Regions from separate parts of the Homo sapiens genome. Here region 1 is reported to be linked to region 2. The links are microRNA targets in miRTarBase. Many come from high-throughput screens and were not tested one by one. Region 2 holds a microRNA gene; the other region holds the end of a gene's coding sequence.

Region 1 (4,403 bases), not on the chromosome of region 2:
TACATTTTATCGTCCCTGACAACTATTATTTATTCCCAGAACATAGCTGTCAAAGCAAATGCACTTCTTGCTGTGTTTTTCAGTGTTTTGTTTTTGTTTTTGATTTTTGTAAAGACAAGGTCTCTCTATGTTGCTAAGGCTGGTCTTGAACTCCTGGGCTCAAGAGATTCTCCCGCTTTGACCTACCAAAGTGTTGGGATTAGATCTTGCCAAGCCTAGGCTTTGGTTTTGTTTTTGTTCTCAATAAATTAATGAATCTTGCCCATCCAAGTTCACTTAATGTATAAAACAAATTTGGTCAAGGTCTCATTTTGCATTAGCTTTGGATTGTGTTACAAAACCCTTACAATTTTATTTGAAAGTTGGAAGTTCTGGCCAGGGCAATTAAGCAGGAGAAGGAAATAAAGGGTATTCAATTAGGAAAAGAGGAAGTCAAATTGTCCCTGTTTGCAGACGACATGATTGTATATCTAGAAAACCCCATAGTCTCAGCCCAAAATCTCCTTAAGCTGATAAGCAACTTCAGCAAAGTCTCAGGATACAAAATCAATGTACAAAAATCACAAGCGTTCTTATACACCAATAACAGACAAACAGAGAGCCAAATCATGAGTGAACTCCCATTCACAATTGCTTCAAAGAGAATAAAATACTTAGGAATCCAACTTACAAGGGACGTGAAGGACCTCTTCAAGGAGAACTACAAACCACTGCTCAACGAAATAAAAGAGGATACAAACAAATAGAAGAACATTCCATGCTCATGGGCAGGAAGAATCAATATTGTGAAAATGGCCATATTGCCCAAGGTAATTTATAGATTCAATGCCATCCCCATCAAGCTACCAATGACTTTCTTCACAGAATTGGAAAAAACTACTTTAAAGTTCATATGGAACCAAAAAAGAGCCCACATTGCCAAGTCAATCCTAAGCCAAAAGAACAAAGCTGGAGGCATCACGCTACCTGACTTCAAACTATACTACAAGGCTACAGTAACCAAAACAGCACGGTACTGGTACGAAAACAGAGATATAGATCAATGGAACAGAACAGAGCCCTCAGAAATAATACCACACTTCTACAACTATCTGATCTTTGACAAACCTGACAAAAACAAGAAATGGGGAAAGGATTCCCTATTTAATAAATGGTGCTGGGAAAACTGGCTAGCCATATGTAGAAAGCTGAAACTGGATCCCTTCCTTACACCTTATACAAAAATTAATTCAAGATGGATTAAAGACTTAAACGTTAGACCTAAAACCATAAAAACCCTAGAAGAAAACCTAGGCATTACCATTCAGGACATAGGCATGGGCAAGGACTTCATGTCTAAAACACCAAAAGCAATGGCAACAAAAGCCAGAATTGACAAATGGGATCTAATTAAACTAAAGAGCTTCTGCACAGCAAAAAGAAACTACCATCAGAGTGAACAGGCAACCTACAATATGGGAGAAAATTTTCACAACCTACTCATCTGACAAAGGGCTAATATCCAGAATCTACAATGAACTCAAACAAATTGACAAGAAAAAAACAAACAACCCCATCAACAAGTGGGCAAAGGATATGAACAGACACTTCTCAAAAGAAGACATTTATGCAGCCAAACGACACATGAAAAAATGCTCATCATCACTGGCCATCAGAGAAAGGCAAATCAAAACCACAATGAGATACTATCTCACACCAGTTAGAATGACAATCATTAAAAAGTCAGGAAACAACAGGTGCTGGAGAGGATGTGGAGAAATAGGAACACTTTTACACTGTTGGTGGGACTGTAAACTAGTTCAACCATTGTGGAAGTCAGTGTGGCGATTCCTCAGGGATCTAGAACTAGAAATACAATTTGACCCAGCCATCCCATTACTGGGTATATACCCAAAGGACTATAAATCATGCTGCTATAAAGACACATGCACACGTATGTTTATTGCGGCACTATTCACAATCCCAAAGACTTGGAACCAACCTAAATGTCCAACAATGATAGACTGGATTAAGAAAATGTGGCACATATACACCATGGAATACACCATGTCCTTTGTAGGGACGTGGATGAAATTGGAAATCATCATTCTCAGTAAACTATCACAAGGACAAAAAACCAAACACCGCGTGTTCTCACTCATAGATGGGAATTGAGCAATGAGAACACATGGACACAGGAAGGGGAACATCACACTCTGGGGACTGTTGTGGGGTTGGGGGAGGGGGGAGGGATAGCATTAGGCGATATACCTAATGCTAAGTGACGAGTTAATGGGTGCAGCACACCAGCATGGCACATGTATACATATGTAACTAACCTGCACACTGTGCACATGTACCCTAAAACTTAAAGTATAATAATAATAATAATAATAATAATAATAATATAATAATAATAAAAGAAAGAAGTAAGTTTGGACCTTTCTTAAATCAGTAAGTTGGACATGATATAAGTAAGTCCCTTAAAAATAAAAGGCAAAAGTTAACAAATTTTTCTAAGGCAGAAAAGTACATCCCATATTACCTTTCTATTGTAGAATTATACTAATTCAAAAGTAAGACTTCGGTCAAAATATTTATTATTTTCATTAATTGGCTTAAATGGTAATGCAGATATTGTGAATCTGCCTTAAGTTTCTTAGATATTATACTTTAAATGTCCCGACCCTTAGATAAAACCACACATGACCTAGTGTCTTTCACAATTCATACTATAGAAGCTCAGATTTAATTGTATATGCTTTGAAATACTTTCTCTCCTTGACCATTGCTATCACAGACTTGAGAAAGAATTGCAACCATCATATCACTTAGGCCCTCAGTTATGAACATAAACACACAGGAAGAAGAGAGAAAGGACTAGGGAGAGAGAAGAAGAAATGCTCATTTATATAGTTTCCAAGGGGTAGTAACCATATCCAGAAGGAAACATCCATAATACAGATGTGCTATGAGTACTTTTTCAGTCATTAAGAAGGTCATTTTAATGTATTTAAGAAGAGCGACCACATGCCACACCAGCTATGAATGGTTAAGTTAGTTATAAGTAAGGAAAGTAACTTTACACGAAGTTTCAAAAGGTTCGTTTGTTTGTTTTGCTTTGTTTTGTTTTAAGAAAGAGGTTCTCACTCTGTTGCTCAGGCTGGAGTGCCATGGTGCAATCATAGCTCACTGTGACCTCAAACTTCTGGGCTCAAGTGATCTTCCTGCCTCACCTTCTTAAAGTGCTGGAATTATAGGCATGAGCCACCATACCTGGCCTTTCCAAAGTTTTGAATAGAAAATCGCTAAAGAGAAACCTCAAGCCTTCGTGGCTAATAGAATCTAAAAACCCCCCTAAAAAGCGAGGATGCAATAAGGTGGCAAAAATAAGACTCAAAATGACCATAAGACTGGAGGTAACATTTTATTACCACCCCAGCACTTACACTAAAAGCTACAACTTGGAAGCCTTACCAAATCCTGAGGAATTGTCATATAAAAATGTTTAAAAGGATGTAAACATTATCTTCCATATGATGGCAACAATGACAAAAGCCTAATTGTCATCTGTTAAGTTACAGAGCCACTAGCAGGGATACTTCTCCCAAAGTTCCATTTTCAAATAAGTGCAGGCGCCCAGTGGTGCTGCCTTTTGAAGTGCCACATGTGGGAAGACTCCCAGCTAACATGACATCTGTAACCCATTCTCAGGAACTTCTTCAGAGCTGAGGCACACACAAGAGAAGCAGAAGCCATATATCAGCAACACTGGGATTTGTTCTCTGCTCTCAAGGTCTCTTGATCTAGCTTAATTTTGTCCACATCGTTTTCTTCATTAGGAAAGCTTTGGTGGTTTACAAGAATCTTCTCCACTAGGAACCGGGCAGCTTCCTCTATGTTTATGTTATCCTGTAATGCAGAAATGAAGAACGGGATTAATTTTTAGGATTAATTCTTAGAATAAGGCATTAAGAGTATGAATGGGACCAGGAAAATTTGTTAGAGGTGGCAGCAAGTGCACAGCCACTTTCCTCTAATACTAAAGTGTGTGCCCACTTAGAGTTGAATGTTAAAGAATAATGTGGTGATGGAAAGAATTCCCTTATTTTTATGAAGGACACCTTTTCTGATGTTCCTATCTTAAACCTTTGCCACTGAGGTTCCATGAGCTATCTCGACGGTTGAAAATGAATCTTTGCTCTGGGCTGCAATTCATATAATGAAGACATTCCAAATAAAAAAATTCCTGCCCTTGAATATCTAATTCAAGCAGTCAGGATACACTGTGAAAAAAACTGAAAGGGCTCAAACAACATTAAAATGTGATAAATGTATCATGTCATTTTTCCATCTCTAAGTACCAATTATTCCTTTTAGTTGTCATGTATAAATTAGCCTGAAACAATGTTGTCAGTGCAATG
Region 2 (4,403 bases):
TGTATTGTGTATGTTCTTTTTGATTTTTGTTATTGTATTGCTTGTTTGCTTTTTTAGGGTTTTTGTTTCCTGTAGAATTTTGTATATTTGGATGTGTTTTGTATATTTTGTGTGTTTTTTTTTATTCCGATTTTGAATGGTGTTTTTAAATGTGTGTTAATTAGAATTTTCAGTAGTATTTTTACATTCTTAAAAATTGTTACTCCCGGCTGGGCACGGTGGCTCATGCCTGTAATCCCAGCACTTTGGGAGGCCGAGGCCAGTGGATCTCCTGAGGCCAGGAGTTCAAGACCAGCCTGGTCAACACGGTGAAACCCTGCTTCTACAGAAAATACAGAAAATTAGCTGGGTCTGGTGGCACATGCCTGTAATCCCAGCTACGTGGGAGGCTGAGGCAGGAGAATCGCTTGAACCCAGGAGGCGGAGGTTGCAGTGAGCTGAGATTGTGCCATTGCCCTCCAGCCTGGGCAACAAAAGCAAAACTCTGTCTCAAAAAAAAAATTGTTACTCCTTTATTGTTTTTTTAGTTGACACATAATAATTTGTAAATATTGATGAGATATAGTGAGATGTTTTGATACATACATGCATTGTGTAATAATCAAATCAGGGATTTAGTATTTTCATTACCTCAAACGTCCATCACTTCTTTGTGGGAAGAACATTCAAAACCCTCTCTTCTAGTGATTTTGGAATATACCATAAAATATTGTTAACTAACTATAATCAATCACTCTTCTGCACAATAACACATCAGAACTTTTAGCCCTCCTAACTGTGACTCTGTACCCATAAACCAATTTTTCCCCAACCCCCCTTTCCCTTCCCTTCCCCAGACTCTGGTAACCATCATTCTACTCTCTACTCCTATGAGATCAACTTTCTTAGACTCTGCGTATGAGTCAGATCATGCAGTGTTTGTCTTTGTGTTTGCATTGCCCTATTTTGTGAGCATTCGTTTTGGGGTTGTTTGTTTCATTGTTCACATGTTTATTTGCATGTGTGGCATGCATGTGTTCACATGTGTTGCAGATATTTCTTGGTCTAAACACTGGTTTGCAAGTGCATGACTGTGGTGACTACTGCTTCTGCTGCTGTAGGCCTTCATCTCTGAACAGAGGATGCCAAACCAAGGCCCCAATGATATAAAGAAGATTCAAATTGGAAAGAAGAGAACTCTCCAGCACTGCTTCAACTGAGCTCTATCTGGCCTGCAATCGCTAGATATGATGAGTCACTTGAGTGGTCCTTTCTATGTAATGACTGGCTTTTGAGGCATATGAAGTAGTTGTTCATGTGCCAACTATATTAAATTGAAAATTAGCAGAACAATTTAGTGAAGTATGCTAAGTCTGGGAGGAAGAGGGAAAATTTTCTCTCTCCTAAAATCTGTCTCATTAAATGTGCAGCAGGTGAAGTAATTAATAAGCATTCAGTGAAAGACATAGGAGACAAAAGGGAGAGGAAAAAGGGTTTGTTTTTTTTTTAATCTATTGACTATATTCTGCTTATTCCTAGTGGACTGAGAGTGTTGGGATTCTGACTGAAATGGCGGAGTGAGGGACATTTTCCGCTGTGCTGTGTGTAGTGCTTCACTTCAAGAAGTGCCATGCATGTGTCTAGAAATATGTTTTGCACCTTTTGGAGTGAAATAATGCACAACAGATACAAGTCAGAACTACCCACTCAGTGATGGGTCAACTCATACAACCCTTTAAAGAGAATTCTGTGGGGTAAAACCTAGAGGATGAGGTTCTCTGGGAATAGCCTCATCTGTAGTTTCCCCGTGTTACTATTAAGATGGTCAGTGCCACCACCATCAGCCATACTATGTGTAGTGCCTTATTCAGGAAGGTGTTACTTAATAGATTAATATTTGTAAGGCACCCTTCTGAGTAGAGTAATGTGCAACATGGACAACATTTGTGGTGGCATTGGTAATGACGAGTGGAATTTCAGTGACAATACTGCCCTCCCTTGAGCCTTGGTACCCAACCTTTAGTGATGAGCCATTTCCAGGTACTCTCTGAAGTACCTCTTGAGAGATCTGCTCCAGAATCTGAGGGTGCCTGGGAAAAGTCTCTCATGTAGGTTTTTCAATTATTTATTGCTTTTTCTCCACAAAATGACTGACTACACTGGAAACAAGATTTGAGGTAGGAACATGATACTTCTTTTTCTCTTGTACCTCTTAGTCTTTTCTCTCTATAACAACCCAAATACACTTCTTGCCTTATAAACCCCTGAGAAGTTTACACTGATCTTCTTTCCTCACAATATTTAAGCCTTCTTTTTAGGGAGCACAAATATCCTCCTGCCCTTCCCTGCTGAACTCCAAACTCCATGAACCATCTTTCTTATGAAGTGATCTCCTCAAGGCTTAGATACACTCAAATTCCCTTTAATATTCCTGTGTATCCGTGATGATAATCTCATATCAGTGGAGTTTGATATGATACCCCAAATTTGCTTTCATTTGAACTATTTATATGTTTTTAGCTGGTCTTAACTATTATGGGAACGGATGAAGTGATGAGAACATATATGTATGAACATGTGTGTACATATACTTCTGGAAACTTTACATATACAAAGGGGTTTATATATCCCTTTATATATATATATATATATATATATATATATATATATACACACACACACACACACACACACACATACATATGACATTCACAGAAAAAGGAAAAGGATGCAGAAAAAGGATCATGTTCCTACCTCAAATCTTGTTCCCAGTGTTTTGTAGTCCTTTTGTGGAGAAAAAGGAATAAATGCTTAAAAAACCTACAGGACATACTTTTCACAGGTACCCCAGGCACCCTCAGATTCTGGATCAGGTCTTATAAGACCTTCAAAGAAACACCCAGGACAATGATTGAGCAAATATATATGTATATAATTATTATAGAAGTCTATTTTTAAAATAAATCCCTTAAGATATTTATTATAAGGATACTGCAAGGAATAACCTCAGGCAACTATGGAGGCTGGTGAGTTCCTAGATCTGCAGGGGGATGGGTCAGCAAGCTGGGGACCCAGGAGAACTGATGGTATAGTTGCAGTCCAAGTCCAGAGGCCAAAGAAGCAGTAGAACAAACCATTTTGTAGTTCCAGTCCAAAGGCCAGCAGGTTTGAGACCCAGGAAGAGCTAATGTTTTAATTTGAGTACAATGCCAGAAAAAAATGAGATGCCCCAGTTTGGAGGCAGTCAGGCAGGAGGAATTCTCTCTAACTTAGGGGAGAGTCAGCCTTTTTGTTCCATTTAAACCTTCATCTGATTGGTGCAGGCCCATCCATCCACATTAGGGAGGGTGGTCTGCTTTACTCATTCTACTGATTTAAATGCTAATGTCATCCAAAAAGACCTTCACAGAAACACCCAGAATAATGACTGACCAAATGTCTGGGCACTCCATGACCCAGTCAGGTTGAAATATAGAATTAATCATCACAAGTTCACTCCTTGTCATGTTGTCACTTATACGCATCTCCTTAAATTATATTTAATCATCAAATGAGAAAAATACCAAGGTCATAATTTCATTTAATAAGATACAACTACCATTTATACAACCCAGAATTCATGAACCACTTCACCAGAAGAGGAGATAAAGTCCTGGAGTGTTGTTTGTTTACTCTTCTCCTTGGTGTTCCATAACATCAATACTATGATTATTTAAAGTTAACAACGGTTAATAACTATGATATAATATCAGTACACCTTACGTTACATGATAAGGGGATAAGAGAGACAAGAAAACACAGAAGTATATTAATAAAAATATAAGTAGAAAATACTCATGGGAACTACAATTCTCATTTCTGTAACTGTCATCTGGTGTTAGCTGGTATTTACAACTACTTTTCTTCACTACCCATTTTGTATTCCCTTTGCCTTCAGCAAGCACCTCAGCCATTATATTTTACCTGGTAGAGTGACCCAAACTTTCATTTCTGAAGGGTCTGGGCCATTAGTAGTCCTGCCAGGATTGGGTTGTTGTAGTTTTCTACTGACCTTAATCACAAGGCATAGTAATACTAAGAGACATCTTATGTATTTCAGAAATATTCTTCCTTACCTCCATTGTGGAGTAGTACTCCAATTTTCCCTTGGTAGTCAGAATCACCTGCTCCAGGCCACACAGTAACTCCCTTCTCTGACCTCTTAAAAAATTAGGAAATATTGTATTGACTTTTCTCTTTCCGTGTTTTCAAGATATCTCTTCTTAAACTATGGCTGTTACGAGAGAAAGAGAAAGAGAAAGAGAAAGACAATCAAGCAGAGCCAGACTGAAAGAGACAGACAGACACGACTGGAGCAGTGAGTCTTTTACACTTCTGTGCTGAAAAATGTGAGAGAGCTTGATGCCTCCTTTCAGGTAAACCCT

Evidence for each region. Region 2 holds the annotated microRNA hsa-miR-506-5p (UAUUCAGGAAGGUGUUACUUAA, at 1,844-1,865, shown strand). A microRNA usually pairs through its seed, bases 2 to 8, with sites in the 3' UTR of a target mRNA and lowers its output. Matches are read on the target gene's strand: a 7mer-m8 pairs with bases 2 to 8, a 7mer-A1 pairs with bases 2 to 7 and ends in A, and an 8mer does both.
Region 1: the mRNA of RAB32 is a reported target of hsa-miR-506-5p. The part of its 3' UTR that is shown has no 7-base or 8-base seed match.

What each region holds. Positions count from the first base shown.
Region 1 is chr6:146,553,944-146,558,346 of GRCh38, reverse strand. It overlaps RAB32 (RAB32, member RAS oncogene family), which reads right to left. Exons shown (of 3, transcript NM_006834.5): 3 at 3,394-3,891. The coding sequence ends at 3,742. Among named protein-coding and RNA genes, the nearest start is that of RAB32, 12 kb to the right of the region's middle.
Region 2 is chrX:147,228,250-147,232,652 of GRCh38, reverse strand. MIR506 (microRNA 506) reads left to right here and starts at 1,810; the gene lies at 1,810-1,933. MIR507 (microRNA 507) reads left to right here and starts at 1,576; the gene lies at 1,576-1,669. The region is part of intron 2 of LOC105373347 (periphilin-1); the gene reads right to left.